Homo sapiens: one gene and its partners. The protein of the gene in region 3 interacts with the protein of the main gene of each other region in a pairwise test. Each region holds a gene or a part of one and is shown on either strand. Other genes may lie near its edges.

The links.
Region 1: the proteins of MS4A12 (region 3) and PLLP interact in binary tests that used the Homo sapiens proteins (3 or more experiments, as listed by UniProt).
Region 2: the proteins of MS4A12 (region 3) and MALL interact in binary tests that used the Homo sapiens proteins (3 or more experiments, as listed by UniProt).

What each region holds. Positions count from the first base shown.
Region 1 is NC_000016.10:57,281,673-57,293,158, reverse strand, and holds the start of PLLP (plasmolipin), read left to right. Parts: upstream 1-8,486; 5' UTR 8,487-8,618; coding exon 8,619-8,753; intron 8,754-11,486. UniProt on the Homo sapiens protein: Main component of the myelin sheath that plays an important role in myelin membrane biogenesis and myelination. Plays an essential function in apical endocytosis. Regulates epithelial development through the regulation of apical endocytosis.
Region 2 is NC_000002.12:110,110,907-110,122,440, forward strand, and holds the start of MALL (MAL-like protein), read right to left. Parts: upstream 4,917-11,534; 5' UTR 4,887-4,916; coding exon 4,782-4,886; intron 1-4,781.
Region 3 is NC_000011.10:60,493,810-60,503,633, reverse strand, and holds part of MS4A12 (membrane-spanning 4-domains subfamily A member 12), read right to left. Parts: intron 6,322-9,824; 5' UTR 6,316-6,321; coding exon 6,040-6,315; intron 2,590-6,039; coding exon 2,452-2,589; intron 1,652-2,451; coding exon 1,595-1,651; intron 1-1,594. UniProt on the Homo sapiens protein: May be involved in signal transduction as a component of a multimeric receptor complex.

The DNA of each region.
Region 1 (11,486 bases), on a different chromosome or scaffold from region 3:
CAGCCAAGGGAAATGGTGTATAGGGAAGGGGCTAGGAAAGTTCCAAACCTGGAACCTCCATTATCCTCTCCCTGTGGAATCAGGGACAGCGTTACTTTCCCAGCATCAATGTGTGACAATGTGCACAGACTATTGCCACCCTAGTAAACTCACTGTCTTGGTGTCTAGAGTCTTTATTGAGGTCCCATCATGCAGGCAGGGTTGACTGCCCAGGTGGCAAATCTCAGACTCCAGCTCCTCCTAAGGTCCAGCTATGTGGGTCCATATCTTGTGTCCCAAAGCTTCCACCCTAAGCCACACTGTTCGGTGACCTGCTGCAGCCAGACCCCAGGCTAAACCACATTGTTAGACTATCAGGTGTGGCCAGCTCCACCCTAAACAATGACTATCAGATATGACATTCCAAGGGTTTAGAGGTCAACACCCAGAGGCTGAGCACAAAAGCTAGATCTTGCTGGGTAGGTGGTTCACGCCTGTAATCCCAGCACTTTGGAAAGCCGAGGCAGGCGGATCACGAGGTCAGGAGATTGAGACCATCCTGGCTAACACGATGAAACCCGGTCTCTACTAAAAATACAAAAACTTAGCCGGGCATGGTGGCGGGCGCCTGTAGTCCCAGGCAGGAGAATGGCGTGAACCCGGGAGGCAGAGATTGCAGTGAGCCGAGATCGCGCCACTGCACTCCAGCCTGGGTGACAGAGAGAGACTCTGTCTCAAAAAAAAAAAAAAAAAAAGCCCTCAAAACTAACTAGGAAATGGGGAGATGTAGGTCAAAGGGTACAGAGTGGCAAACATGTAGGATGAAGAAGTGGAAAGACCTAATGTACAGCATGAGGGTTATAGTTAATAACAGTGTGTTGTATTCAGGATCTTTGCTAAATGAGCAGATTATAGCTGCTCTTGCCACAGGGAGGAAAATGGGTACCCATGTGAAATGATGGATATGTTAGTTTGTTTCACTACAGTAACCATTTTACTCTATATGTATCTTACAACATATTGTATATCTTATATATACACAATAAAATGTATTTTAAAAAAAAAGGAACCATTCCCACAGCACCAAGCATAGGGCCAGTTGGAAAAGTACTCAATCAATATTTGTTGACTGCAATCAGCAACTCGTTGAAGTTGGCTTTTGGAAGCTGTTAGATGAACTCCCATGGGAACCTTTCTGTGAATTTCTTAAAATTGTAAAAGGCAGAGTGTGATGGCTCAAGCCTGTGCTCTCAGCTCTTTGGGAGGCCGAGGCAGGATGATTCCCTGAGGCCAGGAGTTCGAGACCATCCTGGGCAACACAGCGAGACCCTGTCTCTACAAAAAATAAAAAAATTAGGCCAGGCGCGGTGGCTCACGCCTGTAATCCCAGCACTTTGGGAGGCCAAGGCGGGTGGATCACGAGGTCAGGAGATCGAGACCATCCTGTCTAACACGGTGAAACCCTGTCTCTACTAAAAATACAAAAAAAAAAAAAAATTAGCTGGGTGTGGTGGCGGGTGCCTGTAGTCCCAGCTAGTCGGGAGGCTGAGGCAGGAGAATTGCTGAGGCAGGAGAAGGAGGTGGAGGTTGCAGTGAGCTGAGATCGTGCCACTGCACTCCAGCCCCGGCGACAGAGGGAGACTCCATCTCAAAAAAAAAAAAAAATTAGGCCTGTCGCCAAGGCGGGTGGACCATAAGGTCAGGAGATCAAGACCATCCTGGCTAACACAGTGAAACCCCATCTCTACTAAAAATACAAAAAAATTAGCCGGGCGTGGTGGCAGGTGCCTGTAGTCCCAGCTACTCTGGAGGCCGAGGCAGGAGAATCACTGGAACCCAGGAGGTGGAGGTTGCAGTGAGCTGAGATTGCGCCATTGCACTCCAGCCTGGGCAACAGAGTAAGAGTCCGTCTCAACAACAAATGGTAAAAATAAGTTAAAAATAAAAATAAAATAAAATAATTAGCTGGGCATGGTGGTACACGCCTATAGTTCTAGCTACTGGGGAAGTAAAACTGGGAGGATCACTCGGGCCCAGGAGTTCAAGACTGCAGAGGGACATGATCATGCGATTGCACTCCAGCCTGGGCATCAGAGTGAGACCCTGTGTCAACAACAATTGTCTTTTTTTTTTTTTTTTGAGACAGAGTTTTGTTCTTGTTGCCCAGGCTGGAGTGCAATGGTGCAGTCTCAGCTCACTGCAACCTCTGCCTCCTGGGTTCAAGTGATTCTCCTGCCTCAGCCTCCCAAGTAGCTGGGATTACAGGCATGCACCACCACACCCGGCTAATTGTTTTGTATTAGTAGAGACAGGGTTTCACCATGTTGGCCAGGCTGGTCTCAAACTCCTGAAATCAGGTGATCCGCCTGCCTTGGCCTCCCAAAGTGCTGGGATTACAGGTGTGAGCCACCACACCCAGCTACAACAACAATTGTAAATCTAATAGTGTAAATCCTTCAGTGGTTTAAGACCCAAGTGATCTGACTCTTGGCTGCCTGTTGAACCTCATCTCTCCCTATCTTCCCAACTCTTATCCCTCGGTGCTTCCTCAGAGATCTCAAAGTCTTCCCTGACTCAGGGCCTTTGCACAGAAGGCAGTTTTCCCTGCCTGCAATGTTCTTCTCCTGTCTGATTCTTGTTCATCCTCCAGGTCTCTGCTAAAATGTTTAGACCTTCCTTGACCCAGTTATCTAAATGACAACTCCCAATCCTCAGAATTACTCTCTCCCCTGGCTCCCTGCCCTTTTTCTGTGGTGACATCATCACTACTGGTGAGTTGCTATTTCTTGGTGGGTTTGTACATCTAGACTGTCTGTCTCCCCCACTAGACTCCTTGAAGGTGGGGGCCCTCATCACAGCTCACAGCTCCATCCCCAGGGCCTGGCACTCCCGAGGCACACACTAAACATCTGCTTCGTGCCTGAACCCCCACTGCTGAGTAGCTGAGTAGCTGGGGCCACAGCTGGGCAGGCCCAGTACGCAGTGGGGATAAGGTCAGAGCAGGGAACTTTTGTAGAACTGGAGAAAACTGAGGCAAGACATGTACTGCAGGTATCCCGTGTGGAGATAGGCTGCTCAGAGCCCGGGAAGGGGAGGCCGGTCCTGGCAGTAGACAGGCTGTCTGTCCCCCCACCCCATCCTAAGAATCCAGGACCCCGTGGCGCCAGCGGAGACTGTGGGTGGGCAGCTGGTTCCAGTCTGGGGACAGGTTCCTTCCCACTTTTTCTGACTGGGGGGCGAGTGAAGTTGGTTTGGGAGAAAATGTCAAAGTGAAAAACAGTGGAGTGATTCAGTCTTTTCAGTCTTGCTTGCTGCCATTTGAAAAGAATGAAAGTGGGATTAACAAAAAAAAAAAAACCCACAAAATCCAAACCAAAACCAAAACAAAAACACCCTACTGTTTTAGAATCTGCCTCAGAAACAATCATCTTTTTGTTTTCTGTGTCACAATAAAATTAAGGGCTCACCCGAGCTTTGTTCTGCACTTGGACTTGTCTGCAGAGAGGCTGGTCTCTGAGTAACAATTTTGCAGCTACCAAGAAGACTCCTCATTTCCAGAGCACCTACTGCAAGTGGGGTGCTGGGACAGGGGAAGGGGCTCAGGTGCATTGAGGGGAGGGGGTTGAACATCCCGTTGAGTAAAGGGTTAAGTCAGCATCAACCAGTGATATTTTTAAAGTGTTCATCAGAGCTTGTCTCTCGCCTGCTTAAAACACTCCAGGCCTTGGCCGGGCGCAGTGGCTCACGTCTGTAATCCCAGCACTTTGGGAGGCCAAAGCAGGCAGATCACGCGGTCAGGAGATCGAGACCATCCTGGCTAACACGGTGAAACTCTATCTCTACTAAAAATACAAAAAATTACCCAGGCGTGGTGGCGGGTGCCGGTAGTCCCAGCTACTCTTTGAGGCTGAGGCAGGAGAATGGCGTGAACCCGGGAGGCAGAGCTTGCAGTGAGCTGAGATCACGCCACTGCACTCCAGCCTGGGCGACAAAGCGAGACTCCGTCTCAAAAAAAAAAAACACTCCAAGCCTTAAAATAAAATGTTAGCCCTTCTCCATCATTGTGGTAGGCTGTATAATTGCCACTAAAAGATGTATCAGTGGCTCATGCACTTTGGGAGGTCAAGGCAGGAGGATTGCTTGAGCTCAAGTTCGAGACCAGCCTGGGCATCATGGTGAAACCCAGTCTTTACAAAAAATTGGTGAGTCATGGTGGCTCAAGGACCTGTGGTCCCAGCTACTCAGGAGGCTGAGGCAGGAGGATTGCTTGAAACCTGGAGGCGGAGGTTGTAGTGAGCCAGGATGGCACCACTGCACTCCAGCCTGGGCAACAGAGTGAGACCCTGTCTCAAACAAACAAACAGAACAGATCCTAATTCTTGGAACCTGTCCATTTTACCTTATAAAGTAAAAAGGTCTTTACAGATTAAGTGACTAAATTAAGATTCTTTTTCTTTTTTTTTCCTTTTGAAACAGGGTCTTGCTCTGTCACCCAGGCTGGAGTGCAGAGGCAAAAACATGGTTCACTGTAACCTCAACCTCCTGGGGCTTAAGCAATCCTCCCACCTCAGCCTCCTAAGTAGCTGGAACCACAGGTGTGCACCGCCACGCCCGGCCAATTTTTTTTTTTTTTTTAGAGACAGGGGTATTTGCTGTGTTGCCCAGGCTGGTCTCAAACTCCTGAGCCAAACCCATCCTCCTGCCTTGGCCTCCCAAAGTGCTAGGTTTACAGGCATGAGCCACTGCGCCCAGCCTCAAATTAAGATTCTTTATTTGAGGAAAACTATTCTGGAGTATCTGGGTGGCCCTAACACAATCACAAGTGTCCTTATAAGAGAGGCAGAGAGAGATGTTATACATACAGAAAAGGAGGAGGCCATGTGACGTAGGAGGCAGAGACAGGGTTGATGCAGTCATAAGTTGAGGAATGCCAGCAGGCCCCACCAGGGTTGGAAGAACAAGGATGGGATTCTCCTCTAGACTCTGCAAAGGGAGCATGACCCTCAGGACACCTGATTTTGGCTCTTCCCAAATTTTGGAAGATTTTGGCTCAGTGAAACTGATTTCAGACTTCTGGCCTCCAGGACTACAGGAGAGTAAATTTCTGGGTTTTCTTTTCTTTTTTTTTTTTTGAGACCGTGTTTCACTCTTGTTGCCCAAGCTAGAGTGCAATGGCTCAATCTCAGCTAACTGCAACCTCCGCCTCCCGGGTTCAAGTGATTCTCCTGCCTCAGCCTCCTGAGTAGCTGGGATTACAGGCGTGTACTACCACGCCCAGCTATTTTTTTGTATTTTTAGTAGAAACAGGGTTTCGCCATGTTGGCCAGGCTGATCTGGAACTCCTGACCTCAGGTGATCCACCTGCCAAAGTGCTGGGATTACAGCCGTGAGCCACCGTGCCTGGCCAAATTTCTGTTGTTTTAAGTCACCAAGTTAGAGCAGCCACAGGGCACTAATACAGTCCTCTAAATAGCCTGTGTGATCCGGCCCTGGCCCGTGTTGCCAATCTCACCCTTACTCACTTGGCTCTAGCCCTACCAAGGACCTTTTTCTGTTCTCAAAACTGGTCCAGCCTCAGGGCTCCTGCACTTATTAAATTCTTCCCCCAGAATTCCCAAGGCTAGCCCCTACTCATGATTTGGGTCTCTGCATAAATGTCACCTCTTCCCACAGGTCTTCCTTGACCACCTTAACCCAGAAATCACCTGTGGGTGACTCTGTGTCACATTCCCCCATTTTACTTTAGTCACAGCGTTTGTCACTATCTGAAAGTATTATTCCTCCCGGGTTTATTACTTCTCATCCCCACCAGACAGTGGGATCCAACGACTGAAATCCTATCATTTGTGGCAACACAGATGAACCTGGAGGACATCATGTGAGTGAAATAAGCCAGGCATAGAAAGACAAACACCACGTGGTCTCTCTCATATGTGGAATGAAATAAAGAAGTTGATCTCGGCCAGGTGCAGTGGCTCACGCCTGTAATCCCAGCACTTTGGGAGGCCAAGACAGGTGGATCACCTGATTTCAGGAGTTTGATACCAGCCTGGCCAACATGGTGAAACCTTGTCTCTACTAAAATTACAAAAAATTAGCTTAGCGTGCTGGCGGGCGCCTGTAATCCGAGCTACTCAGGCAAGAGAATTGCTTGAACCTGGGAGGCGGAGGTTGCAGTGAGCCGAGGTCGCGCCATTGCACTCCAGACTGGGCAACAAGAGCAAAACGCCATCTCAAATAAATAAATAAATAAATTGATCTCATAGTAGAGTAGAATAGTGGTTACAGGAGGCTGGGGTGTAGTGGGAGGATACAAAGAGGTTGGTTAACAGGTACAAAGTTACAGTTAGGGCTGGGCATGGTGGCTCACACCTGTAATTCCAGCACTTTGAAAGGCCAAGGCGGGTGGATCGCTTGAGGCCAGGAGTGCGAAACCAGTCTGGGCAACATGGAGAGACCCCATCTCTACAAAAAAATTTAAAAAAATTAGTCAGGGCTGGGCCCAGTGGCTGATGCCTGTAATCCCAGCCCTTTGGGAGGCCAAGGTGGGCGGATCACAAGACCAGCCTGGCCAACATGGTGAAACCCAGTCTCTATTACAGATACAAAAAATTAGCTGGGCATGGTGGCTCGAGCCTGTAATTCCAGCAAGACTCCATCTCAAAAAAAAAAAAAAATTAGTTGGGCATGGTGGCGTGCACCTGTAGTCCTAGCTACTAGGGAGGCTGAGGTGAGAAGATCACTTGAGCCTAGGGGTTGGAGGCTGCAGTAGGCTATGATCATGCCACTGCCCTCCAGCCTGGGTGACAGAGTGGGACCTCGCCTCAAAATAAATAAAAGTAAAAAGAAAAAAATACCAATATTGTACATTTCTTTTCTTTTTTTGTTTTTGTTTTTAGATGGAGTCTGGCTCTGTCACCCAGGCTGGAGTGCAGTGGCATGATTTCAGCTCACTGCAACCTCTGCCTCCCTGGGTTCGAGTGATTCTCCTGTCTCAGCCTCCTGTGTAGCTGGGACTACAGGCACCCACCATCATGCCTGGCTAATTTTTTTGTATTTTTGTAGAGACAGGGTTTTGCCATGTTGACCAGGCTGGTCTCAAACTCATGACCTCTGGTGATCTGCCTGCCTTGGCCTCCCAAAGTGCTGGGATTATAGGCGTGAGCCACAGCGCCTGGCCCTAATATTGTATATTTCAAAATATGGTAGCTAGAAGTGGGGATTTTGAATGTTCTCACCCCAAAGAAGCCATAAATGTATGAGGTGATGGATATGCTAAGTACCTTGATTTGATTTTTTTACACAACGTACACAGGTACCAAAACATCACATGGTACCCCATATTTAGGTACAATTATAGGTTGCCGAAAAAGTAATTGCGGTTTTTGCTATACTTTTATATGCAAAAACCGTATAACTTTTGCACCAACCTAATATTACATGTCAGTTAAAAACAATTTTTTAAGTGGCTCTCTTTTTAAGTGGGTATTTGGGAAAAAAAAAATGTGGGAGCCAAGAAGGCCTTGTCTACTTCGTTTCCTGCTGTATCCACAGGGCCTGGCATGTAGTAGGTGTTCAGCAAACATTGGTTGATGAATGCATGATGACCTATCTGTGCAAACCTCTAGGCTCAAGAGGTGTGTGTGTGTGTGTAAGTATTTTAGGGTGCATGTGTGGCAATGAAACTGTATATGACCTCCCATCTTCTGAGTGACCCCTCCTCCCTCACGCTGTCAGGAGCTTTCTGGGGAATATTTCATTTATTCCCTACAACGCTCTGTGAGGCAGGTTTCCTTCGTATCTATATGACAGACGAGGAAACTGAGGCTCCGCGATCATCTAAGTTATATAAAATATGTTCAGAAGTGAAAACAGCATTAATAGGCAGAAAAGGACCTCCCCCTTCTACCGCTTACCCACCGCTTACCCAGACCCTCCCCTTCCCCGCGCTGGGTCTCCCAGGATTCTTCTTTACTTTCTTTTCTATAAAATACAGACGGGGGGAGGGGGGGCGTCTCACTGTGTTACCCAGGCTGGTCTCGAACTCTTGGCCTGAAATTATCCTTTCACCTTAGCCTCCCAAAGTGCTGCGATCAGAGGCAGGAGCCACCGCATCCAGCCTTCTCCCGGGACTCTTCAAGAGTCGCTGCGCCGGGGCCTAGGCCGAGGGTGCACAGCGCGTAGAAAGCGCCTGGGAGAGCGGTGTCCCCCGCGAGCTACCACAAGTTTATCCCTAGGCGCGGAAGCTACCACGGCCTGGGCGAGAGCCGGGAAATTCCCAGCGGGCGGCTTGCCCCGGGGGAGGCCGGCGAAGCGGTCTAGGCTGGTGCTGGCGGAGCCGATTCACGGACCCGGGGTTGTTTACTGGTCCGGGGAGTGGACGCGGCTGCCCACGAACCGGTCGCGGCTGGGGCGGCGGCGGCGAGCAAAGGGTTAAGGGGGCGGCCCCGGCGGCGGGGGCGGAGCCGGGATCTCGGCCGCACCTGGCGCCCCAGGCTCCCAGCCCCGACGCCTCCTGCAGCGCCTGGAGCCACACAGGGATCCGGAGCCTGGGGGAAAAGCGGCGCGGGAGCCGGCACCCACCGCTGGAGGGGCGGCGACGGCGGCCGTAGCGACCTCGGGAGGCAAGCGGAGCCGCCATGGCCGAGTTCCCGTCGAAAGTTAGCACGCGGACCAGCAGTCCTGCGCAGGGCGCCGAAGCCTCGGTGTCGGCGCTGCGCCCGGACCTGGGCTTCGTGCGCTCCCGCCTCGGGGCGCTCATGCTGCTGCAGCTGGTGAGAGCACGCGCGGGCCCACGGGGTTGGCCGGGGGCTCCCGGTCCGGCCAGGATGGGTGAGGGACTCCGGCGCTGCGTTCATTTTTCGCGAACCTTGCGCTCCCCACCCGGGCTCACACTGTCACCGACGCGCTGCGCGTACCCCTAGGGCGCTTCCCGCACGGACGCCCCCAAGATCGCCCTGCATCCCTCTCACCACGACACTACCCCGTGGCCGTCGCTGCGAGCGTGAGCACCCTGCACCGTGTACAGAGTGCCCACTGCCCGTGCCCCATCGTGCCCCCTCCAAGGTGGTTACCAGCGGCCACAGAAGCCCCCACCGGAGCCACAGTCACTGCGCACAACCCGCCAACCCTTCCCAGCCCTCCCTTCCCTCCTCTCTCTTTTTCACCCCTCTTTCTGCCCGGACAGTGCCCCCAGCCCTCTAGGGAACCCAGTCTGAGGCAAAGTCCACTCTCTGACCACCTTCTGTCCCGCTCCCAGCGGCTCCGGGTGGCCGCACCCATGAACATTCCTCATCTAATCTAGAGGGCACATCCGACTCCCCAACACGCACACTCAGGCACTACCCTGTGGGCGCCCGCGCGGGAGCCGGGCTCTTCTAGCTTTCTCTGGGTGACCCGCCAGGTTTCAGCCGGTTTAGCCAGCCCCACGGGACCGAGATATCGCTGGAGGGAGGGGTTTGTGGGTAGCCAGGGGCAAGACTCCTACTCTCTCCCAGACCCCTGTACAGACCCCAACTGAGGCGGACCCATGGGAACATCCTCCACTCCCACACCAGCCACAGGCCCGGATGTTAGCTTCTTCCTCTGCCACCCTTTCGTGAGGGTCTGGAAGCTGGGTGGGTGCCCTGGGTGGGTGAGGGCCTGATACATTTTCAGAGGACTCAGGTGGAATTGGAGTTGGGCCAGGACCTGTATTTCTTAGCAATCCAGCGAGTGGACATTTCCCATTGTCTCCTATTGCTGGGTGCTAGCGCTGCTGCGAGGCCCAAGCTAGAGGGCAGGGTGGTTGCTTTGGTGCCAGACCCTGGGCTGAGGTCCAGTCTCCCTTCCCTGACCTCTCCAGGTGCGGGCCCACCTCTACCTGGGTCAGTGCTATCTCATTTCAGGATTTCTCAGATCTCTGTGGGCCCCCTCCCCAACCTCTGAATCTCCTGGCGGGTTTGTTTAAAATTTAGATTATTGGACTCCACCCCCGGAAAAAAATGTGCAATCGGAATTTGAATCTCAGGAAGTACAGCCAGAAATTCATTTTTAACAGTTCTCCCAGAGTTTTTTGTTTGTTTCTCTTTTGGGGGGTGGGGGAGAAGGGGAGAAGATTCTGTCTTCTGAGGGAAGAGGTCTAGTTCCTGGAATCATTTAATTCTGCAGATGGGGAGAGCCACTGACCCCGCCACCGCTAGAATGCTCTGCTCTGGGCTGGTTGTGAGGGGCACAGCCATGAGCAGCTGCCTGGCTGCCCAGGGGAGAGCCAGGTGGGTGTGAGAAGTGGTGCGAAAGGGCAGAGGAGAAGGAGAGCAATTTCACGACCAGGAAGGCTTGTTGGAGGAGGTGGTTTTTGAGCAGAGACTTCACTGAAATCTGAGGCAGACGCAGGGAAAGGGTGTTCCAAGGGCAGGGAACAGTGTGAGCCAAGATGTGGTGATGAGAAAGTTGAATTAATTTGCAGGGAGTAGCCAACAGGTTGGTGGTGCTGGAGTTGAAGCACTTGTTTCTGGTGTGGACAGAAGCCAAGGGCCTTGTGTAACTTCTGCGAGCTACAGGGTCTAGGTTCTGTTGGTGGCCTTAAGAGGTTTTGGAACAGAAGAGGGATCTTGCTGGGTGGAGGATGATGACTGGCAAGATCCCTGTGAGGGATCCCTCAGCATCCCTGGTGAGGTGGATCCTGAGGCTGGCCCCTGATGGACAGGAGGATTGCTTGTGGCCAGAAGTTCAAGACCAGCCTGGGCAACATATTGAGACCCTGTCTCTACAAAAAAAAGGAAAAAAAAAATAGCCAGGCATGGTGGTATGCGCCTGTGGTCTCAGCTACTTGGGAGGCTGAGGTAGGAGGACCCCTTGTGCCTGGGAGTTTGAGGCTACAGTGACTTTGATCGCACCACTGCACTCCAGCCTGGGTGACAGAATGAGACTTTGTCTCAAACAGACAAACACACACACAAAAAAAAAAAAAGAAAAGAAAAAAGAAAGAGACTAGCAATAGGGGCAATAGGGGGAATGGAAGGCATTGGAGTAAGAGGAGGATGTTGCTGCTGTGGGCCGCAAGGGTCTTGGTAGCTTCCTCTAGGGCAGGCTTGTGTTCCTGATTGGGGTTGGGATGGGTGGGGGCATCCCCTGTGGCCTCAGCAATCCAGCCCTGCGCATCTGGGTCCCATTACACAGACGTAGACATTGAGGTCTAGTTAGAAGGACTTGCCAGGAGTCCTGTAATAGAGCTTGGCACTTGGGTCTCTTGACTCTCAGGGACTGGGTGTGAGGGAAGTGGGCTCCTTTTGCTCCCTACCTGCAGTGCCTTTGAGGGGATGAGGGTCTTCCATCAGAGTTCTGAAAATGACCTGCACATTTTAGTGCCTTAGAAATCTGCTTGTTGGGGCCAGGTGTGGTGGCTCACGCCTGTAATCCCAGCACTTTGGGAGGCCGAGGTGGGCAGATCACGAGGTCAGGAGACGGAGACCATCCCGGCTAACAGGGTGAAACCCCATCTCTACTAAAAATACAACAAAATTAGC
Region 2 (11,534 bases), on a different chromosome or scaffold from region 3:
GTTTAACATATGCAAGTCAATAAATGTGATACACCACATAAACAGAATTTAAAACAAAAATCACATGATCATTTCAATAGATGCAGAAAAAACATTTGAAAAAATCCAGCATTGCTTTATTGTCAAAACTCTCAGCAAAATCGGCATACAAGGGACATATCTTAATGTAATAAAAGCCATCTATGACAAACCCACAGCCAACGTAATACTGAATGGCGAAAAGTTGAAAGCATTCCCTCTGAGAACTGAAACAAGACAAGGATGCCCACTCTCACCACTCCTCTTCACCATAGTACTGGAAGTCCTAGCCAGAGCAATCAGACAAGAGAAAGAAATAAAGGGCATCCAAATCAGTAAAGAGGAAGTCAAACTGTCACTGTTTGCTGACGATATGATCGTTTAACTTGAAAACTCTAAGGACTCTTCCAGAAAGCTCCTAGAACTGATAAAAGAATTCAGCAAAAGTTTCTGGATACAAGATTAATGTACACAAATCAGTAGCTTTTCTATACACCAACAGCGACCAAGCAGAGAATCAAATCAAGAGCTCAACCCCTTTCATGATAGCTGCAAAAAATAATAATAGTAATAATAAAATACTTAGGAATATACATAACAAAGGAGTTGAAAGACCTCTACAAGGAAAACTATAAAACACTGCTGAAAGAAATCACAGATGACACAAACAAACGGAAACACATCTCATGCTCATGGATGGGTAGAATCAATGTTGTGAAAATAACCATATTGCCAAAAGCAATCTACAAATTCAATGCAATCCCCATCAGAATACCACCATCATTCTTCACAGAATTAGAAAAAAAAATTCTAAAATTCATATGGAACAAAAAAGAGCCCACATAACCAAAGCAAGACTAAGCAAAAAGAACAAATCTGGAGGCATCACACTACCTGATTTCAAACTATACTATAAGGCCATAGTCACCAAAACAGCATGATACTGGTATAAAAATAGGCACATAGACCAACGGAACAGAATAGAGAACCCAGAAATAAACCCAAATACTTACAGCCAACTGATCTTTGACAAAGCAAACAAAAACATAATGTGGGGAAAGGACATCCTTTTGAATAAATGGTGCTGGGATAATTGGCTACCCACATGTAGGGGATTGAAACTGGATCCTCATCTCTCACCTTATACAAAAACCAACTCAAGATGGATTAAGGACTTAAACTTAAGACCTGAAATTACAAAAATTCTAGAAGATAACATTGGCAAAACCCTTCTAGACATTGGCTTAGGCAAGGATTTCATGACCAAGAACCCAAGAGCAAATGCAATGAAAGCAAAGATAAATAGCTGGGACCTAATTAAACTACAGAGCTTTTGCACAGCAAAAGGAACAGACAGCAGAGTAAACAGATAACCCACAGAGTGGGAGAAAATCTTCGCAATCTGTACATCTGACAAAGGTCTAATATTCAGAATCTACAAGGAAGTCAAACAAATCAGTAAGAAAAAAACAAACAATCCCATCAAAAAGTGGGCCAAGGACATGAATAGACAATTCTCAAAAGAAGATATACAAATGGCCAACAAACATGAAAAAATGCTCAACATCACTAATGATCAGGGAAATGGAAATTAAAACCACATTGTGAAACCACCTTACTCCTGCAAGAATGGCCATAATCAAAAAATCAAAAAAAAAATAGATGTTGGTGTGGATGTGGTGAACAGGAAACACTTCTACCCTTCTGGTGGGAATGTAAACTAGTACATCCACTATGGAAAACAGTGTGGAGTTTCCTTAAAGAACTAAAAGTAGAACTACCATTTGATCCAGCAATCACACTACTCAGTATCAATCCAGAGGAAAAGAAGTCATTATTCAAAAAAGATACTTGCACACACATGTTTATAGCAGCACAATTCACAATTGTGAAATTGTGTAACCAACTCAAATGCCCATCAATCAATGGGTAGATAAAGAAACTGTGATATATATATATATGTATATATATAAATATATACATATATATGATGGAATACTATGCAGCCACAAAAAGGAATGAATTAACAGCATTCGCACTGACCTGGATGAGCTCGGAGACTATGATTCTAAGTGAAGTAACTCAGGAATGGAAAACCAAACATCGTATGTTCTCACTGATATGTGGGAGCTAAGCTATAAGGACACAAAGGCATAAGAATGATACAGTGGACTTTGGGGACTTGGGGAGAAGAGTGGGAGAGGAGTGAGGGATAAAAGACTACAAATATGGGCCAGGCACGGTGGCTCACGCCTGTAATCTCAGCACTTTGGGAGGCCGAGGCAGGCGGATCACGAGGTCAGGAGTTAGACCATCCTGGCTAACACAGTGAAACCCCGTCTCTACTAAAAATACAAAAAAAAAATTAGCTGGGCATGGTGGGGGCACCTGTAGTCCCAGCTACTCGGGAGGCTGAGGCAGGAGAATGGCATGAACCCGGGAGGTGGAGCTTGCAGTGAGCCAAGATCGCGCCACTGCACTCCAGCCTGGACGACAGCGAGACTCTGTCTCAAAAAAAAAAAAAAAAAAAAAAAAAGACTACAAATGTAGTGCAGTGTATACATGGATGATGAGTGCACCAAAATCTTACAAATCACCACTAAAGAACTTACTAATGTAACCAAATACCACCTGTACCCCAATAATTTATGGAAAAATAAATTTTTCAAAAGCACAAAAAAAGAAAAAAACCTAATCAGTACTCTTCAGAAGTGTCAAGATAAGGACCCAGATTTTCCCAAATTAAAGGAGATGAAGGAGATACGGCAACTAAGTGCCATGTGGGATCCTGGACCAGAAAAAGGACATTAGTGAGAAAATTAGCAAAACTGGAGTAAGGTTTATAGAGTACTTGATAGCACAGTATCAGTGTTAGTTTCCTGATTTCAAGAGTTGTACCACGGAAGATGCAGGCATTACCAGCAGCTGAGGGAAGAGTACACAGAACTTTCTCTACTATTATTGCAGCTTTACTGTAAATCTCACGTTACTTAACAGTACAAATAAATGAAGAAAATTGGGCCAATGTGAATTTTGATTGTCATTGAGCCCCTCACCCCCCACAACACGTAAGGCCCCAGAGCCCAACACCAGCGTGCACTTTGCTCTTCCAGGAGTTTCACTGGCAGGAGCAGGGCAGGTGCGGCCAACATGACCTCTCATGTTTCTCACCCTGGGTGCTGTCCTGGTTCCAGAAACTCCGTGCCTCTAGCCTCCTTCCAGGACTTCTCCCCTGGCCTCTAGGCCTTTCCCTCTCTTTCCCCCCAGCCTGTAAATGCCTGTTCTTTGAGGTCCAACTCTTGGTGGCAGGCCTGGACCCCTCCTTGGCCTGGAGAGTTCAGATGGTCCCTCCTTGCTGAGGCCACCATCCACTTGTTGGGAGGAAATGCTCATGAGTCTCTTCCCGGCAGACAGGAAACCACCAGGAGGCAGTGCCCTGTCACCAGGGGCTTGCAGGACTGACATGAACCACAGGCTCAATAAAAAGAGGCAGAGTCAACCAGTACCCCAGCCACCCATGCAGCTGCTCCAAGGTGAGGGGCACACCCAGGGCCTGGCACGTAGGACTCATCAGAGCACGGTTATGTCATCAGTCTGGCAGGATGCCCACGCTGTGCTGGGGATGGTAGCCTTGGCAGAAACCTGCCTCTTAGGTGGGGTTTCAGCTGGAGCCACTCAGATCCTAGGCCCACCCTGCCTGATTCTCTTTCTGGTCGCCATCAATGGCTAACCCGTTCGCCAGTTTGCCTAAAAGTGGCTTGAGGGGGCCCAACTTTGCAAGCAGAAGACGAGAATGAGAAGGGCTGAAAAGTAGATGCACTTTCTATCTTTTCCCCCCTGCTCAGGGACAGCACTGCCAAATTCAGGGCAGGTAAGAAAATACCACCCACAAGCTAGATACTTCAGAAGGTGCTGGAAAAAGAAAACACTCCTTTGCCTTGATTGGACCCCAGGCTTGACTGTGCTCCTCCGTGAAGAGGATGTGGTACCAGCCAGTTCCGAGGGAACTTGTGCAGTGCGGAACGCTGCATACGCACAGCTCTGCAGATGGGAGCAGGCAGGATCCCCAGGGATCAGGGCCACGACTCAGTCGTAGGGCGCCCCAGAGAGTAACACAGCGACAGGTTCTCATTTGCAACCAGGGTGCCGCACACGACTGTTTTATGGCAGATGTTGCCATAGCTACCTGGTGTGGGAGACCCCACAAAAGTCAAAGTTCAAAGTCAGCGGACGTGACAATTAAGAAAACACTGGAAGACCTACTCTCAGAGGGAAACACAGTCTCCTCACTTCAAACCAGAAAGGCACAAATAGTTGGACAAAAGAAGCCGCGTAATTAAAATTCATGTGCAACATCTCCCTGGGAAGCCTGGATATTTTAGCGACGTCCCCCCAGGCCTCCACACTCAAGTGGGTTTTGTTTTGGAGGGAGGAACCCCCTTGGCGGCATAAGACGGGGCACCGAGTGGCATCTGCCTCTTGAGTACAGCTGCGCCCCGCTGTGCGCCCGGTGGGAGGCTGGCAGCCACCGCAGCCCCTGTGCTCGCTCCCCGCTCTCGGTCCGGTCTGGGTCTCTCTCGGCGCGGTCCGGTCTGGGTCCGAGGCCGGTCTCCCCCCCCCTCTCTGCAGGTGGCCCCTGTGCTTGCTGCCCCTCTCTCTTCTCGGTCCGGTCTGGGTCTCTCTCTTCTCGGTCCGGTCTGGGTCCGAGGCCGGTCTCCCCCTCCCTCTCTGCAGGTGGCCCGGGTCGGGGGTGCCGCACTCACCAGCTCGGGCAGGAAGAAGGCGAAAGGGATGGTGAGGAACAGCGCGACCCCCGAGGGCACGTCGGACGGGGCGTAGCTGGTGGCGGGCGGGTCGGGCGAGGCCATGCTGTCAGCCCCTGCCGGGTGCTCCGCGGCAGCTCGCCCGCGCGCAGCCTGTCAAATATCACCTCCTGCCCGACACACCCATCGGACGTCGCCTGGGAGGGAAAAAAAAAAAAAACGTTCCAGCCGAGCAGGTCCTTCCACTCGCTGCAGCCAGCAGATCCTCAGTGGGCGGCCCAGCGGCATCGGATGGCTCTGCCTGGCCGGCGGGGGGCACAGCGCTGGTGCAGGAGGGAGCAGAGCGGGAGTCTCCTCCTAGACCTTTCCAGCTAAGGAATCTTTGACCCCCGGAGCATGTTATTCCAGGGGATGCCAGCGACAGCCACTCCCCTGGGCCCAGAGTGTAGGCCCAAGCTGCTTGGCTACGAGGGCTGCGTACTGAGGACCAACAATGAGCCAAGCTATCTGCAGACAGCCCGGGTGCCCACCACGGCCTGCACGTGGCTGTTTTGCCCTTTTCCAAGTGAGGAGACTGAGAATCAGTGAGGTCAAGTCAAGACCACAGAGCTGGTTACTAACAATGCTGGGTCTTGCCCAGCTCCCTCCTTTTCCACTCTTGGGGACAGCTCTCAGTCCCCAGCCTCCCCTGGGAGGAGCAGCCCTCCCTTCCAGCTCATGCCCCTGGGACTTGGTGTTTCCTTCTTTTTCTGGATCCCTTTCCATGGTCCTCCACTCCTCTTTTCCTCATGGGGCAGATGAAGGCCCCCCAGTCTCTGGGAGAGGACCACACCGGCAGGCACCAGAGAAGGGCTGGGCTGGCTGGCTGCTGCCTCTAGTGGACAACCTCCTTCCTTCCCTGGCCTTCCTTCCAGCCAGTGCCTTGCCCCTAACTGGGCTTGAGACCAAGAAGTTTCTTCCTGACTCCTAGGCAAGTCAGGGAGCTGAATGCAGGGCTGTGACCCAGAGGCAAGCAACTCCTTTCACACCAAATACAAGTCCCAAAGGCTGAACCATTTTCCCCTCCACCTTTGAATTGGCGAACCTTCATTTTCCCGACCCGCCCTGAAACAGTCTGCTCAGGATGCTCCAGGTTAGGGTCCCTTCTTCCTGCCCCCTGCTGCTCCCTGGTGTGGAGAGCATGTGGGGAAGATTGTGTGAGGGCTGGAGTAATTAGAAGAGGCCATGTCTTGATCTCATTAGCAGAAACGGTGAATGCCAGGTCCTGCCCTCAGGGCCACAGGTGGGGAGACCAGCCAGCTTGGCCTTTGCCTGGTCTGGGGAGAGCCAAGGGAGAGAGGAGTTTGGACAAATGAAGCTAAGACCAAAGGCATTGCAAAGAAAGGCAATGAACCCCCCAGTGGATCTCAAACCAGACTGATCATCCCTTTTTCCCAGGCTACGGAAACTAGGAAGTAAGGGAGACCCTAATCCCACCTGCCAACCCCAGTCTCACCTACACCACCTTGTTTACAGGATTAATCCAAGCAAAGGAGAGATTTCTCCATGAATCCCACATCTTGCCACCTCTCTTAAAGGTTGCAAATAAGCACTGTGCCACTCTTACAGGCTGTAGGATACCTTTGACTTGCCCATGGACAACATGGCATAGTAGGAAAAGTTTAAGTAAGAAGAAAAACAACCTTCTTAGGCTCATATCTATGAAATGGAGAAAATAATACAACCCATAACCCCTTAGTCTCTTAAGCTGAGAGGCCCTGAGCCATTTCCACCTTCTGAAGCAATTAGTATATTAAGAAATGAAGATATGCCTTGGTCTTCTGGCTAAAGACCAGGGTTTTCATTTTCCTTCTCTGCTGTGCATCTCTTCTGACTGGGTCTATCTTCAGGACCAAAGCAATGTGTGTGTGTGTGTGTGTGTGTGTGTGTGTGTGTGTGAGAGAGAGAGAGAGAGAGAGAGAGAGAGAGAAACACAAATGTGAAAATTATTCCCCCCATGCTTTTAGGATCATGGTTCCTCTGATCAGAGACAAAGGTTCCCCTTTCTCAGAGTTCCAGGTACCTGCCTGGCTGCTACTTCCATTGCCACCACCACTGTCACGAGATTGCACAGGGGCTAAGGAAGGAAAGAATAAACAAACAAACAAACAAAAAACAGAGATTTTCTACACTCTCTCTGACTGTTTGGGGCTCTCTTTCCCATTCCTCAGACCAGAAACATGGATTCTTTTGGAGATGTCTTTGTCTGCATCCTGTGTACAGTTCTGGGTTTCAGGTGGTCTCTGACGCTGGCTGACAGGTACCAGAGGAAAGAAAATGGGAAACTCACCAACAGCTTAGTAGTGTTTTGAATTCTGGTTTCCTTCCCAAATATTCCTGCTCCTTTTTTTTTTTTTCTAGAATCCTCAGTTAGCTTCTCCATGCATTCTGTCCAGGGCTGTTAATTGCATTTCATGAAAGGAAGAGGAGGAGTATCCTTCTCTACTTGACCAGAGCCCAAATAGCAACATCCTGCTTAACTCTGCAAGCACTTTTCACTACCCAAGATTTCCCTGATTGATTAATTTGCCTATTGTTTGTCTCCCTGCCCCTGTCCCTCTCTAGGATGTGGGCTTAAGGAGAGCCAAAACTTTGTTCATGTGGTGAACCACAGCCATGTCCACCATCTTGAATACTGTCTGATACACAAAAGGTACTCAATAAATGTTTTTAAATGATTGAAACAGTCATGAAAACAGTCATAAAGACTTTGGAGACAACTGCTTCTCTCTTTTTTTGATTCCTATTTATTAAACTCTTTTCCCACTAAGAAATTGCTTTATCTATATTTCAGAAACAATTTACTAGTTGCATGAAAAAGAAGAGAGAAGCCAGAAGAAATCCAGAGATACTTGGGGGGAAAGAATAGACAGTTGTATCCATTGGGATTCTTTCAATAACAAAAGTTAGAAAAACCCATTCCAAATGGCTTTAGTGATGAAAGGAACGTATTACTTTAGGAAGTGAGAAGCTAAGAGGTAATAATGGCTTCGGGTGAGACTTCATCCAGTGACTTGAACAATGCCACTCAAGGTGGAGGTGACGTTACCAAGAGAGAAGTATATGGAGGCTGAGCAGCAGAAACACCAGATGTCCACTATAGTAGCCTCCCACTGTAGAAATAGGAGCAGAGCTCTCCCCTTTTCTGCTGCAAGAACACACATGTCCCACTGGCTCTCGCCTGCTAGACACAACTAGATTGCAACTATTATTTCTACAAATCAAGGTCTCTTTAACTCTCAAATGGGGTAGATAGAATGCACACACTGATAGACTCAGGAAGATGCTGTGATTAATGTTCGTAGCCATGAGGCAGAATTGAGTCTGGCTTCTTGTGTCTCTGGAGTTGGGCAAGTACAGAACAGTTGCCCGGAAAGAGGAAGGACTCAATGGGATAATGTCTGGGTCATCCAGAGATTCCTACCTGGAGAAGAGCTCAGAAAGCATGGAGACCTTTTTATTCCCCAAAATGGCCTCTTCGAAAGGACACAGTTCTGCAAAGTTAATCTTTGCTGGCAAAGTCAGATACAAATGAGCAGGTTAAGGTCCAGTCTGTCTTACAGAGTATCAGAAAAGGGCTAAATGACAGGCACACTATCAAAGTCCCAAATGTGAGCTGTATTCCATTAATGAGTTCTGTTTTATATTGCTGCACACAGACCTGCACGCCTCATTCAGTATCAGTCATCACTGAGCAGAACATCCTCGACCTCCATTTTCCTGCCTATGAGACAGTATAACCTATAGACTTTCACTTGCCATTCACTTACTATTTTTCTGAGACAAGGTTTCCCTGTTGCCCAGGCTGGAGTGCAGTGGCATGATCACAGCTCACTGCAGGCTTAACCTCCTGGGCTCAAGTAATCCTCCAACTCAGCCTCCTGAGTAGCTGGAACTACAGACCTGCACCACCATACCCGGCTAATTTTTGTATAGATGGGGTCTCATCATGTTGCCTAGGCTAGTCTCGCATGCCAGGGCTCAAGCACCCTGCCTGCCTTGGCCTCCCAAAGGTGTGAGCAACTGTGCCTGGCCCATTCACTTATCTTTATACCCATCCCTCTTTATCCAAATTGACTTGGTTACTGCATTCAAATATCAGAATTCAGAGAGCAAGTTTGAGTTTTGAGGGATACAGTATTACCAAATCCACGTGTCCTTGAGTTTCAGAGAGTAAATGTGGGAGTTCAAATAGTGAGGGATTCATTTGAAAAGGTATTTGAATCTAACTGGTCCCCAACAACAGACAGTGGGGTTGGGAGAGGGAGAGTGAGGATAGGAAGGAATGCCTGTACACTTACCATTGACTTCATGCCTGCCACGGGGCCACTAACAGCCCCAACCATAGTACTGTTGGAATTAGTTTTTGTGTTTGGCTGATTACTGTCCACCTCATGCATTGTAAGGACAGAGATCTTGCCAGGACTGTTCTCACTGTATCTTCAAAGCTCAGTGCTGTGCCTGGAACATGGCAGGTGCTCAACACTTGTTGAGTAAATGATGAATGGATAATTGTAACACTTAGATGCAAAGTGCCCTAAGTAAGGTTCTTTCTCTGCCTCTTTGTTTTGAGGAAACAGATCACAGCAGCTAGGTGACAGCTGTCTTTGATCACCTCCACACCCCAAGAAAGCCTCCCAACTTAGAATGCTTCACGCAAGAGGAAGCTGAGGCAGTTCACAGCAAAGGATATCCTATAATGCTGTAAATTGACAAAGCCCTCAACTGGCAGAGGACACTGCTGGCTTCCTCTGTTAAACTGATAGTTTCCCAACTGCTACTGGGTTGGCAAGTCAAACTTGCTCCATTTGTACACAGGGTTATGTATGTCAACTGGTTTTATGTGAGTTGCTCTGGCCTTGCGCATTAGATCACAAACACTGAAGACAGAGACTATACCTGCTCTTTAATATCTGCCTCTGCCCCTAGACTTTCATTCCAAGCACCCAGGCAAGCGAGTTGCAACATTTTTCACCTCTGCAGACCTGATGGATATGACACTCAACCAATTAAGAGGTTGGGAGGGTGGGGAGGAGTGAGCCATGTAGTTCACAGTTCAGACTCCCCGCCCTGGCCGCCCTCCCATGGTTCGGGTGTGGTGAGTCCCCCTGGCCTTGGAGGTAGGCACCACACGTGTGGTCACTCGGCAAAGACCTGCTGTTCACCCTGCTGCTGCCCGCCCCCCACCACCATGACTCTTACAATTAATTCAGTGAGTTGCTAAAGTCACACTCCTTGAGACAGACCCACGAGGACTCATTTCCAGGATGTTTTTGGCTCCTTGACAACCTTTTCCGTTGTGGAAGCCAGTAAGTGGCATTTAAAGTCACAGAGATTTTGTTGTTTGAAAAAAAAAAAAAGATTCCACTGATTGAAGAGAAGGTGGAGTCTCTTAATAGCAGAAATGCCCACACCCCTGGGTCTCTCCCTTCCGTTATGTACCTCACTTTCTGGCCTAAGCTTCACTTAAGCTTTTTCTCTGGTGTCCCTATGATTTCCTAATGTGTCAGAAACTATGAAGTTGTCCATATTTGTCAGCTCATGACACATTCTCAAATGAACGTGGAAGACAGTCTTGGAAAATGCATTCTAATAAAAAGCCTTCTCTTCCTTCATGTTGTACATGCACTGAAAGAAATTCACTAGCATTTTCTTTCACTCAAAATGCCCCACCCCTGGCTTAACGCTAAGAATAAGCCAAATGCTTAAAAAAAATAAATAAAAAGATGGCCAAGCATGGTGGCTCTGAAATCCTAGCACTTTGGGAGACTGAGGCAGGAGAATTGCTTGAGTCCAAGAGTTCGAGACCACCCTGGGCAACATAGTGAGACCCTGTTTCTACAATAAAAAACACAAAAATTAGCCAAGCATGATGGCACGTGTGTGTGCTCTCAGCTACTCAGGAGGCTGAGGTAGGAGATCACCTAAGCCCGCGGAAGTTGAGGCTGTAGTGAACTGTGACTGCACCACTGCACTACAGCCTAGGTGACAGAAATAAATAAATAAATAAAAATAAATAAATAATAATAAATAATAAATGCCTCAAAAATAAATAAATAAAAATAAAAAGGTGGAGCTTAGAAATTATAAATCAATAATAAATAAATAAATGCCCAAAAAATAAATAAAAATAAAAAATAAAAAGGTGGAGCTTAGAAATTAAAAGTCATTTCTACAGAGAAATGACTTTCACAGTGAGGAGTGATATGGGCTCATGTTCTTTCAAAAACAGGACTGCAGGGGACTAAGAGTAAGAGGAGGCAACTCAGTAACAGAGTAGCAAAAAGTCTCTGTGCACACTTACCACCTCCATTTGAAAGGCAAAGCCCTCTCCCTGGGAGCAGGAGCTGGGGAGGGCCGCGGTGCTAGAGAAGTGGGGGCACCACTTTGTAAGTGTGCCCAGGCAGCTGATGGGCAAAAGGAAGGTGTTTGCCACACTCAGCCTTGTATTGTGTGGTTGAGGGCAGAAGGGCACGCACAGGGAGAGATCTCCTGAAATGAGTTCCTGGAGAATGAAATCTCTTTTCCAAGGCCCAGTTCTCACTTGTCACATTTGTGGCTGGGAACACTTTCTTTCTTTTTTTTTTTTTTTTTTTTTTTTTGAGATGGAGTTTCACTCTTGTTGCCTAGGCTGGAGTGCAATGGCACGATCTTGGCTCACTGCAACCTCCACCTCCCAGGTTCAAACAATTCTTCTACCTCAGCCTCCCAAGT
Region 3 (9,824 bases):
ATCAAATTTCATGGTTCTTAATTTTTGAACTTTCAAAACAATTTTTCAAGTTGAAATTATTCTGTTTTCTGCCCTTCTGGGTAATTACCATAAACATTATTCTGTATGCAGCCTAGATGTAGGGTACTTCTAAAAAGCTGTAGAAAAATGTAAATCATATAAAGCAGGCACTCATCTATTGGATTTTACTAAAAGCTTCATGCACAATAACAACTATATTTTCTTTATAAAAAAATGAAAAAACAAACTTCTAATGAGCATTTTTCTGTGTCAGACACTGTGTTAAATTATTTAAATTATCTCAACTCTTACAGCCTTTGAATGAGGTAGTACGATAGCATATGATTTTATAGATGGGAAAGTATTTAGACACAACATGTTTGCTGAAAAATTTAGGAATTAATGAAAACCCTAAGTCTCTCTGGGGACTAAATATGAACCCCCAAATTTAGAAGGAGAAAATTTAGGCTTTTGTGGGCAGAGGTGTATGGGCGACTACAAAACTTTCCCCAGTTTCTACAATAGGATTTTAACATGCAGAAGAATAATTGTGAAACCAAGTCCGCAGGTGACTTGCTAGGGGTGGCACAGTCGAGTTCTTTAGAATGTGCTTGTGCTGCAGCGTGCCTTAGAGCCTCCTGAAGTTCTCTAAAAGCTCTTAGAAAAATTGTCTTAGGTATGTGTCAGTGGCTGTCTCCTCTAAGAGGTGGAATCTATGCTTCGACAATCTCAATTAGACGGAAGGATCCTTAAAAGATGCAGAGAAAGGGTGCTTTATTTTGTTTTTGGACTGCAACAGGAGTGGTTAATCAGAATTAGGCTTATTTTATTTTAATTTGATTTAATTATTTTATTCTTCTTTTGTCTGCAAGAGCATGAGCTACATGATTCTGTGTTCCTCTTTCCCCGTTCTTCTTTCTTGTACTGGATTACATATAATCTTGACACCACCTCTGCTCTAGTTGACTCTAGTTCTTGATAAATCACTTTCTTTTTCCTGGTTCAATAGTAGACCACGAAATTGGAATAGGTGGGGTGCTGTGACCGACAGAGCTCAAAGTCCTGTCTTACTCATCATTTTTATAAACTCTTCTTACAGAACAAGCTAGACTCATTTAATGGCAATTTAAAGAATTGTAAAACACACAACCTGTGTAAGAGTAGGAAATAGCACAAATAAAAAAATAAAAATACAAGACAGAGCTGAGAAGTGGCAAATGAACAGTAGAGACTTGGTAACTGATGTGTCTAGTATGTATTTCCTGGCTCCTGGATTCTCCTTTGGACTTCCCATAATAGAGTGTGACCAGACTGAACCAGGGAGCTTTTAGGTTAAAGCTTAAACAACCCTGATTTTTACTACTTCTCACCTTTGTGAATTCAAGAGTCAGGATATGGAGCTCTGCCATTTCTTAGTGGCAAACTGTGTGGACCATTTTCTCACCCCAGCGCTCAGACCATAAGGCAACCAATAGATTTTTTTTGGGAAAGGTGCTCCCTTTTGCATTTCCCAAATCCAGCTTTTCAATTTTCCTCCCCAATATGTTAAGCTAATCTTTAAAGGGGTTCAAAAAGTAGAGACAGTCTAACTTACCAGACAACGGGAAAGCTCCTTGGATGCTGACACAGAGAGAGAGCCAGAGATAATAAACTGTGGAAATGGACAAATTTATTTGTGAAATGGGTTAACTGGTTGTGCTTGGGAATTTCTCTTTATATGAAAGGTTGGTCTATTTATGTTCATCTAGTTTCCTTCTCAAAATTTTCTCTCGCACTTCTGAATTTTCTGGAGTAACTCTCAGTCATATGTCCTTGACTTCTTTTTTATTTTCTTTTCCTTAATTTCTGGCCTATGAAGAACTCACAATGTTTAAGCATTCCTTGTTCTGAGGCTTACTGCTCCATCCCTTCTCATAATCAATTGCATTTTTTTAATTAAAAAATTTTTTTAGAGATTGAGTCTCACTATATTGCCCAGGCTGGCCTCCATCTCTTGAACTCAAGCAATTCCCTGGCCTCAGCCTCCCAAGTAGCTGGGACTACAATCACACACCACTATGCCTGGCTTACTTGCATATTTTTAATCATGTTTCCAATCACCTTTTCTTTTCTTTCTCTCTCCACCCAATACATACATTTCCATCTCAAATGTAGTAGGATATCAAAACTTTGGCTTGCTGATTACATGATTAAATTTTAAAGAATGGAATAAGCTCCTAGGTAAAATGGCGAAAGAGTTCCCGATTTTTTCATGCTCATTCAGAGCTGTTAATTTTTCTAAATTCTCCAGCCCTCATTCAGAGCTGTTAATTTTTCTAAATTCTCCAGCCCTCAGATGTAGGGCTTTATCAAGAAATGAGTTGTGAATTGGCTGGAGATAGCAATACTTTATAAACCAAGAGGGAATACTTTATAAACCAAGAAGGACTGGTGTTCTAGCAATCTACTCACAGAAAGGCCACCCCAGAATGGGTATCCACCAATAACAGCAGTAGAGGCAAAACCTAATACTTCTCTAAAAGAGAAGGATATTAAACACAAAACAATTCCAAAACCAATGTGCATCAATCCAACCATGATCTGGATCACCTGAAAAAAGAAAACAGCCATTTAAAATTACTTCTTCACTTTCAGACGTGTGAAACATTACTGTCATTGCTGCCCCTGCTTATTTATTGTCAATTTTGCTGAGATCCATCGTTGTCATTCAGGCACACATCTGAAGCAGGAGGTGGGTCATGAAGATTCTGACATATACTAGAATAACTGGAGTGCAAGGCCCTTAGTGAAACGCCCTGTTTTGAGGTATTTGGAGAATTTACTGGGGTGGCCCAAGAAGAATTCTTCAGAAAGTACAGCTGCTTAATCATGCATTAGCATCTCTGAGGGCCTCTAAAAGACTATTAGAAAAACAATACTTTAACTGTGATGTCAGTAGCTGCTTTTTCAGATGGATCAGTTCTCTGCTTGGGTCATCCCAGTTACGGGTAAAGGAATTGGTGAAGATAAAACCATTTATTAGGCATGAATTATGTGCTTGGTCATGTTCTGAACACTTTACATTTATTGTTTCATGTAATCCTCCTACAACTGGATTGAGTCCCAGAGACATAAAGATATCAGGTATCCAAGGTCACACAATTCCTAAGAGGCAGATCTGGGAATTTACTGCAGCACATTGACTGCTGAGCCTGTCTGAATTATTCGGTACTGTCTTCCCCCATGCTCAGCTCTGCTCTACCTTTTCCATGAAGTCTTCTTGATTACACCAAATTAATCTTTTTTCTTTCTTTCTGAATTTCAGTTGCATCTCATGACATAAAACACACCTTATTACTTGATTTTGGATTCATTTATATTGTTTTTTTTTTTGTTTTTTTTTGGTTTTTTTTTGAGACAGAGTCTTGCTCTATTGCCCAGGCTGGAGTGCAGTGGCATGATCTCGGCTCACTGCAAGCTCCGCCTCCCGGGTTCACACCATTCTCCTGCCTCACCCTCCCGAGTAGCTAGGACTACAGGCTCCCGCCACCATGCCTGGCTAATTTCTTTTTGTATTTTTAGTAGAGACGGGGTTTCACGGGTTAGCCAGGAAGGTCTGGATCTTCTGACCTCTTGATCTGCCCGCCTTGGCCTCCCAAAGTGTATATTGTCCTTTTTTAAAAAGTTGCAGGTATGCAATCATTTTCTTACCAATCATTCTTCTTATCAATCATATATTACTAAAAGTAAGGTATACATCTTTTACCTCCTTGTACCTCTTATTGAACCTTCCTTCATTGTAAATAAAGATAGATTTCTGAGGAATAATCATTTCTAGATTGGTCCAAAACTTGATTGTAGATTTGTAATTTATTTTTCCCCATGGTTACATCTTATCTATCCAGGGAGACTGCAAATACAAAGACTGCTGTATTTATTTCTTCAATAAATAGCTACTGAACACAAGTAAATCGAATTAAAATTAGAAAAAAACCCAGTTTCATAAACAATGCTAAAAGTTTCTTGAGACATCAATAAAAACCATGAACCTTTCTCCCTGAAAAATTATTCTTGCACATTCATACACACACATACCATACTTTTGCTTATAGCTTCAGAGAGATGATGGGCCACGTTTAGCCTATCTCACTTAAAGAACTCCTGTATTAGACTTTATATTTGGTTTTTACAACTGTTCTTTAGAGCAGCAATTCAGCCGTCTGGTCACAAACTTCCCATTCTCATCCTTGCTGTCACCTTGATGAGGGGCAGTTAGATCTGGATTTGTACTGGCCCTCATTTCTCCTCCTACAGCCCTGGCTGTACCATCTACTGATCAAAATTGCCTATAGGACAGACTTAAAAATTTGGACATACAATTTGTCTGCATTTTTGGCCACAGAAGCACTTTAAGGTCTGAGTTGACTGGTACAGGTGTGCCAAGTCCTGCCACCTGTGGCCCCTGCACTGTCATGATGCCCAGGGCCTGCTGATGGCATAGAAATAACAAATCTTCAGAGAGAGGAAGTAGCTTCTGCCAACTGGAGATTTTGAAAACAAAACTTCACATTCTTTTAAAGTATTTTTATCACACGCCTCTTCGGTGCCGGGCAGCATGCTTCAGTGGTTCCTCATCCACCCAGTCAAAGCCAAAGCCTTCTGCTCTGCAGGCCTCACCACCTGTGGCCTCTGCCACTCATCTGCCCTCCTGACAACTGCCCCCTCCCTCACTCATTCTGTTCTATTTTATTGGCCTCCTCCCGGTTCTTCAAATACCTCAAAGACATTTTCATCTAAAGACTTTTACACTGGTTGTTTTCTCTTTCCCTAATATCTGCAGGGCTCACTCCTAACTTCAGGTTTTTGCTCAAATGTCATGTTCTAAGGAAAGCCCATTCTGACCACCTTGAAATTGCTGCCTCCTCACTGCCTAGTACTTTTTAGCCCTTTTACACTTCTTTGTTTTGTCTATATCATTCGACACCTTCTAACACACTAAGTACTTTACTTCCTTATTATGTATACAGTCTGATTTCCCCCTCTAGGGCGTAAGTTCTGTGAGGGCAGAGATTGCACCTCCTTTGTGCTTAATGATATTCCAAGCACCTGTGTGGGGCTGGCTGTATGGGGTGTTAGTTTGTCCCATTGGCTTATTAGGAGCAGGGAATTTCCTCTATCTGGGAGGAGGAGGATCAGAAGGGCCACCTCCACAGCTTAGTAAATAGGCTGCTGCAGGAGAACTTATGCTCATTTTTACTTCCCTAAAACATCACAACTTGAAATACATAGTAAGATGGCTAGAAGAGTTTCTGGCACATAATGAGCATTCATTTACGGAATGCTCCAGCAGAGCATTTTGAGCTATTCACAGGGAGAGACTTAATATAATTTGGTGGAATTGTGCTAGCGGGATGAATGATGTATTTGGAAAGCACGGAGAAGGGACTAACAATTCTACCTAGGCAGGTGGAATTTTCTTACAAGTAGGGCATTTTTGTTTTTACAATGCCTACAGAAACAAGGCAGTCAGTTCAGAGTCTCCTTTGTAGAAGTAAGGTGACAGTTAAACTGTAGCATCTCTAAGGGTATTGGTGAAAGAGGCATAGCAGATGGAATGTCCCCCAATTCTTTCACACTCAGCCTTTCCCAGACTGCCCATTTGTAGTTTCCTTTTCTGGGGGCAGCCATCATTGTTCATTGTTATGTAAATTCACCTTTATGCAAAAACCAGACTTGTAACTAATCCAGAGATGGGATTGAGATTGTCCAAAAAGTCCTTTGAAGAAATGAGATCAAGCTAGATGTAACAGTGCTTCTGTCACGTCAATATTACCAAATTCTCCAGCTAGGGAGGCTCCTCTGTGTCTTGTTATATTTTTGCTTGATCTAAAATGAAATGAACTCAAGGGAAAGTCTATAGGCAGACTAAATATTTCTGTCTAAAAGAGATAATTTCAGAATAACGTTCAGAACTTTTTAGCAATTGGATGATACTCTCCTATAACTTATAAGAAGACCTTGCAAATGTGAAATTAAAATTCTGGTAGTAAATAGACTTACCCCTAGTGCCTTTGCTTCTTCTTTAAAGTTCATTACTGCTGTTCCCACACTTGGATTTATCATTTGTATATTTCCTTGACCCGGTTGACTGCTAGCAAAGATTCCCGGAGATGTGATGCCGTAGGGCTGAGCACGCTGAGCACCCTGAGCTTGGTTTTCTAAGTTGATTGAACCCAGAGGCTGTTGAAATCCAGGAGCCATAAAGCTGCTTGGTGGGTAAGGGTTGGGTATGGTTTCATTTACTTCAGCATGGCTTGTTGGCTTGGATGACATCATTATGTCCTAAGTATCACAAAACATACAAAAGTGATACGTTTATCCAGAAAAGAAACTAAAGAAAATCTTACCAAATGTCAAATGTCAATTATCTATGCAAATGGAGAGAACAAGTGAGCAGATAATGGGCCATAACAACTGATAGAAACATGATTCTCATAAGTCCCCAACCCCCACGCCAAGGACTGGTACCTGTCTGTGGTCTGTTGGAAACCTGGCTGCACTACATGAGGTAAGCAGCAGGCAAGCATTACTGCCTGAGCTCTGCCTCCTATCAGACCAGCATGGCATTGGATTCTCATAGCAGCATGAACCCTACTGTGAACTGCACATGTTGGGGATCTAGGTTGCATGCTCCTTATGAGACTCTAATTCCTGATGACCTGAGGTGGAATAGTTTCATCCTGAAACCATCCCTCATTAGAGAGATGCTATGCTGCCAACTGTGAAGTTGGAGGAAGGCGTCCATGAACCAAGGTGTATGGGTCGCCTCTAGAAGCTGGATGAAACAAGGAAACAGATTCTTCCCTAGAGTCTCCAGGAAGGAACATGACTCTGCTGACACCTTGAACTTAGTCTAGTGAGCTGGTATTGGAATTCTGACCTACAGAACTGTCAGATAAAAAAATTATATTGTTTTAAGCCACTACATTTGTGGTAGTTTGTTATATCAACAAATAGAAAACTAATACAGGGGCCAAGTAATACAATACTTGTATGGCAAGGAGGGCAGTCCAAGATTAAAATTGTTTGCCAGTAATTGGGAAACTAGATAGTTCACATATGCCCACTTAAGATGATTCTTCTGTTCTTTAGGAAAAATGCTTTTATTCATTTCTGTCCTTCTGAAAGCTTAGAGCATCTCAGGCCCCATGTAGGCAAGGGAAATTTTGTTGGAAATAAGCCAGTACAACTGAATATGGACAACAATGACTATTAATTCTTGAAAAAAATTATGACACTTAAAAAATTTGTCTTTAGCCTTAGATTCCTTTTTTTGAGGTCTTCAAAAGCACAACAATTTTCTTGTGCTTATGAATATCAAGAAAGTTAGAGTGATGAATGTCTCATTCTTGGTATGAAGTATGAATACTATGAATAACCTATTGGTACAATGTATCACTGGTATCTAACAAGGACACATATGCAGACCCTGTGCTCATAGAATCCAGAAATTTTAGGGTAGAAAAGACCCTTTCCATTTATCCTGTCTCATTCCCCTTGATTTACAGATGAGAAATTGAAGCTGAGTCGTTAAGTGACATGCTCAAGGTTACACAGAAAACATGTGGCAGAGTTAGGACTTGAAAATGGGATTCTTGGCTGTTGGTTCAGAATCCCCCTCCATGCAGCATCACTCTGGACATTTGCAGCTTGTTTTCCAGGCCAGCCTTGGTGACAGGGTATTGACTCTGCTCCTGCAACTACCCAACAACAAAACTTCTGTCTTCTGATGCCATGGAGAGGAGTTTATAAACCGGATTAACTTCTTTGTGATTGAGTGAGTTAGTAAGGATTCTCTTTAGCAAGCTTTAGGTGAGGTGTATAGAGAGCTAACATTTATTAAAGACTTATTATAGGCACAGTAGGGTCTGTATAGTGTCATGTTTAGGAACATGAACTTGGGATCTAACTCCAACTTTGTGTCTTTGGCAAGTTTGTTAACCTCTCTTTGCCTTTGTTTTCTGTCTGTAAAATAGAGCTAATAAGACTACCTTCCTTAGAGAGTCAGTTTGAGTATTAAAGAGTTATTCTCTGCAAAGTATGTGGAATTGTGCCGATTACAGGGTTGGCTCTATTATTATTTCTATGTTAAGTGCATGAGATACATTATCTCTGTACCCTTTACAGAACCCCATGAGATAGGTACTCTACTAAAATCCCCATTTCACAATGAGAGAATTTAATCCAGAACCTGTACTCATAACCCTTACCCTCCGATACTAGATGCAACTGAAAATGGTTGAAAACTCAATGAAAAGGGAGAAAACATCTTTCTGAAATATCTGATTACAGAGGAATTTTTTTTTTCAAAATGGAAACACATCCAGCACTTTAGGAGGCCGAGGCGGGCAGATCCCGAGGTCAGGAGATCGAGACCATCCTGGCTAACATGGTGAAACCCCGTCTCTACTAAAAATACAAAAAAAAAAAAAAAATTAGCCGGGTGTAGTGGTGGTCGCCTGTAGTCCCAGCTACATGGGAGGCTGAGGCAGGAGAATGGTGTGAACCCGGGAGGTGGAGCTTGCAGTGAGCCGAGATCGTGCCACTGCACTCCAACCTGGGTGACAGAGCGAGACTCCATCTCAAAAAAAAAAAAAATGTAAACACATTTGAGCCCACAAAAGTTTATTTTAAACAAGGAAAAAGGAAACAAGTCCATAGCTGTGACTCTTGGAGTAACACCACGTAACTCTCAATAGCATTTGAGAATGTGAGGTTATACATCCTATGGATCTGGTTTCGGTGGCCAAATATTGCTCAAGCCCTCTTTTCTAATCTTCAATCTGCTACTTCACTAAGTCTGGGACTTTAAGCAAGTTTCTTAATGAAATCCCTGTTAGTTCCTATGTCTCAACTGTAAAATGACAGAAGGTACCTAAGGAGGCTAGTCTAAAGTTCAAATTATCCTAATTTATGCAAAACTGTTGGAACAGTGCCTAGCACATGGCAAGAGCTTAAAAAGGAACTATTATTTTATTATTAGATCCCAAGGTATTCTATCTTGTTTTAGGCAGTGGATGTGGCCATAGGAAAAGTTTATAAAAGGAATTGAACAGGGTCAATTTCAAGAGCAAAGAAATAGGAGATGGGTACTCAGAGTACAGTAATTAACCAGAACAAGAATTTTTTTGAGCTTTTAAAAAGCATACAATTAAAGAATTGTCCACGTTTCTGCATGTATATGATTTCATTACATTCTCCTTTGCTGTTGATCATTGCTTTTTTTTTGTCTCGAGAAATTTTATGAGGAAAACTCAATACTTTTCATTTATTTATCAACAGTTTCTCCTTTCATATCTGCTGTTTAGTTTCTGGACTAAGATCTGTAAATTTCACATAGAACCCAGATTATTCATGGCTAGGTCTATAGTTATTAGGACTCAGAATACATTTTTACTGGGTCAAGTTCTGGTTTTATAAAAGGAATTAAAGACAGAGCCAGCCAGTTCTGATTCTTTAATTATTCAATTGAAATGAAGACAATTCTGTAAATGATACATGAGAAGGGAAACTAATAAATAGACTCCTTTTATAGATTCCACCTATTGACTTAGTAGGATTGTTCTCTTGACAGTTGACAAAATATTTACCCCTAGTTGTCCTTTTTTTAAAAATAAGAATTAGAACAACTGCAATTATTTTTAAGAACAAGGAACACATAAAAATATTGGAGCTCTGATGAGATCAAAAGTATAAGACTAAAGCAATTAGAGAAAACCTCAGCAATTTGCTCTGTGATTACATTATTTCAAATAAAAATGGGAAAAATTTACTTCTTTATAGTT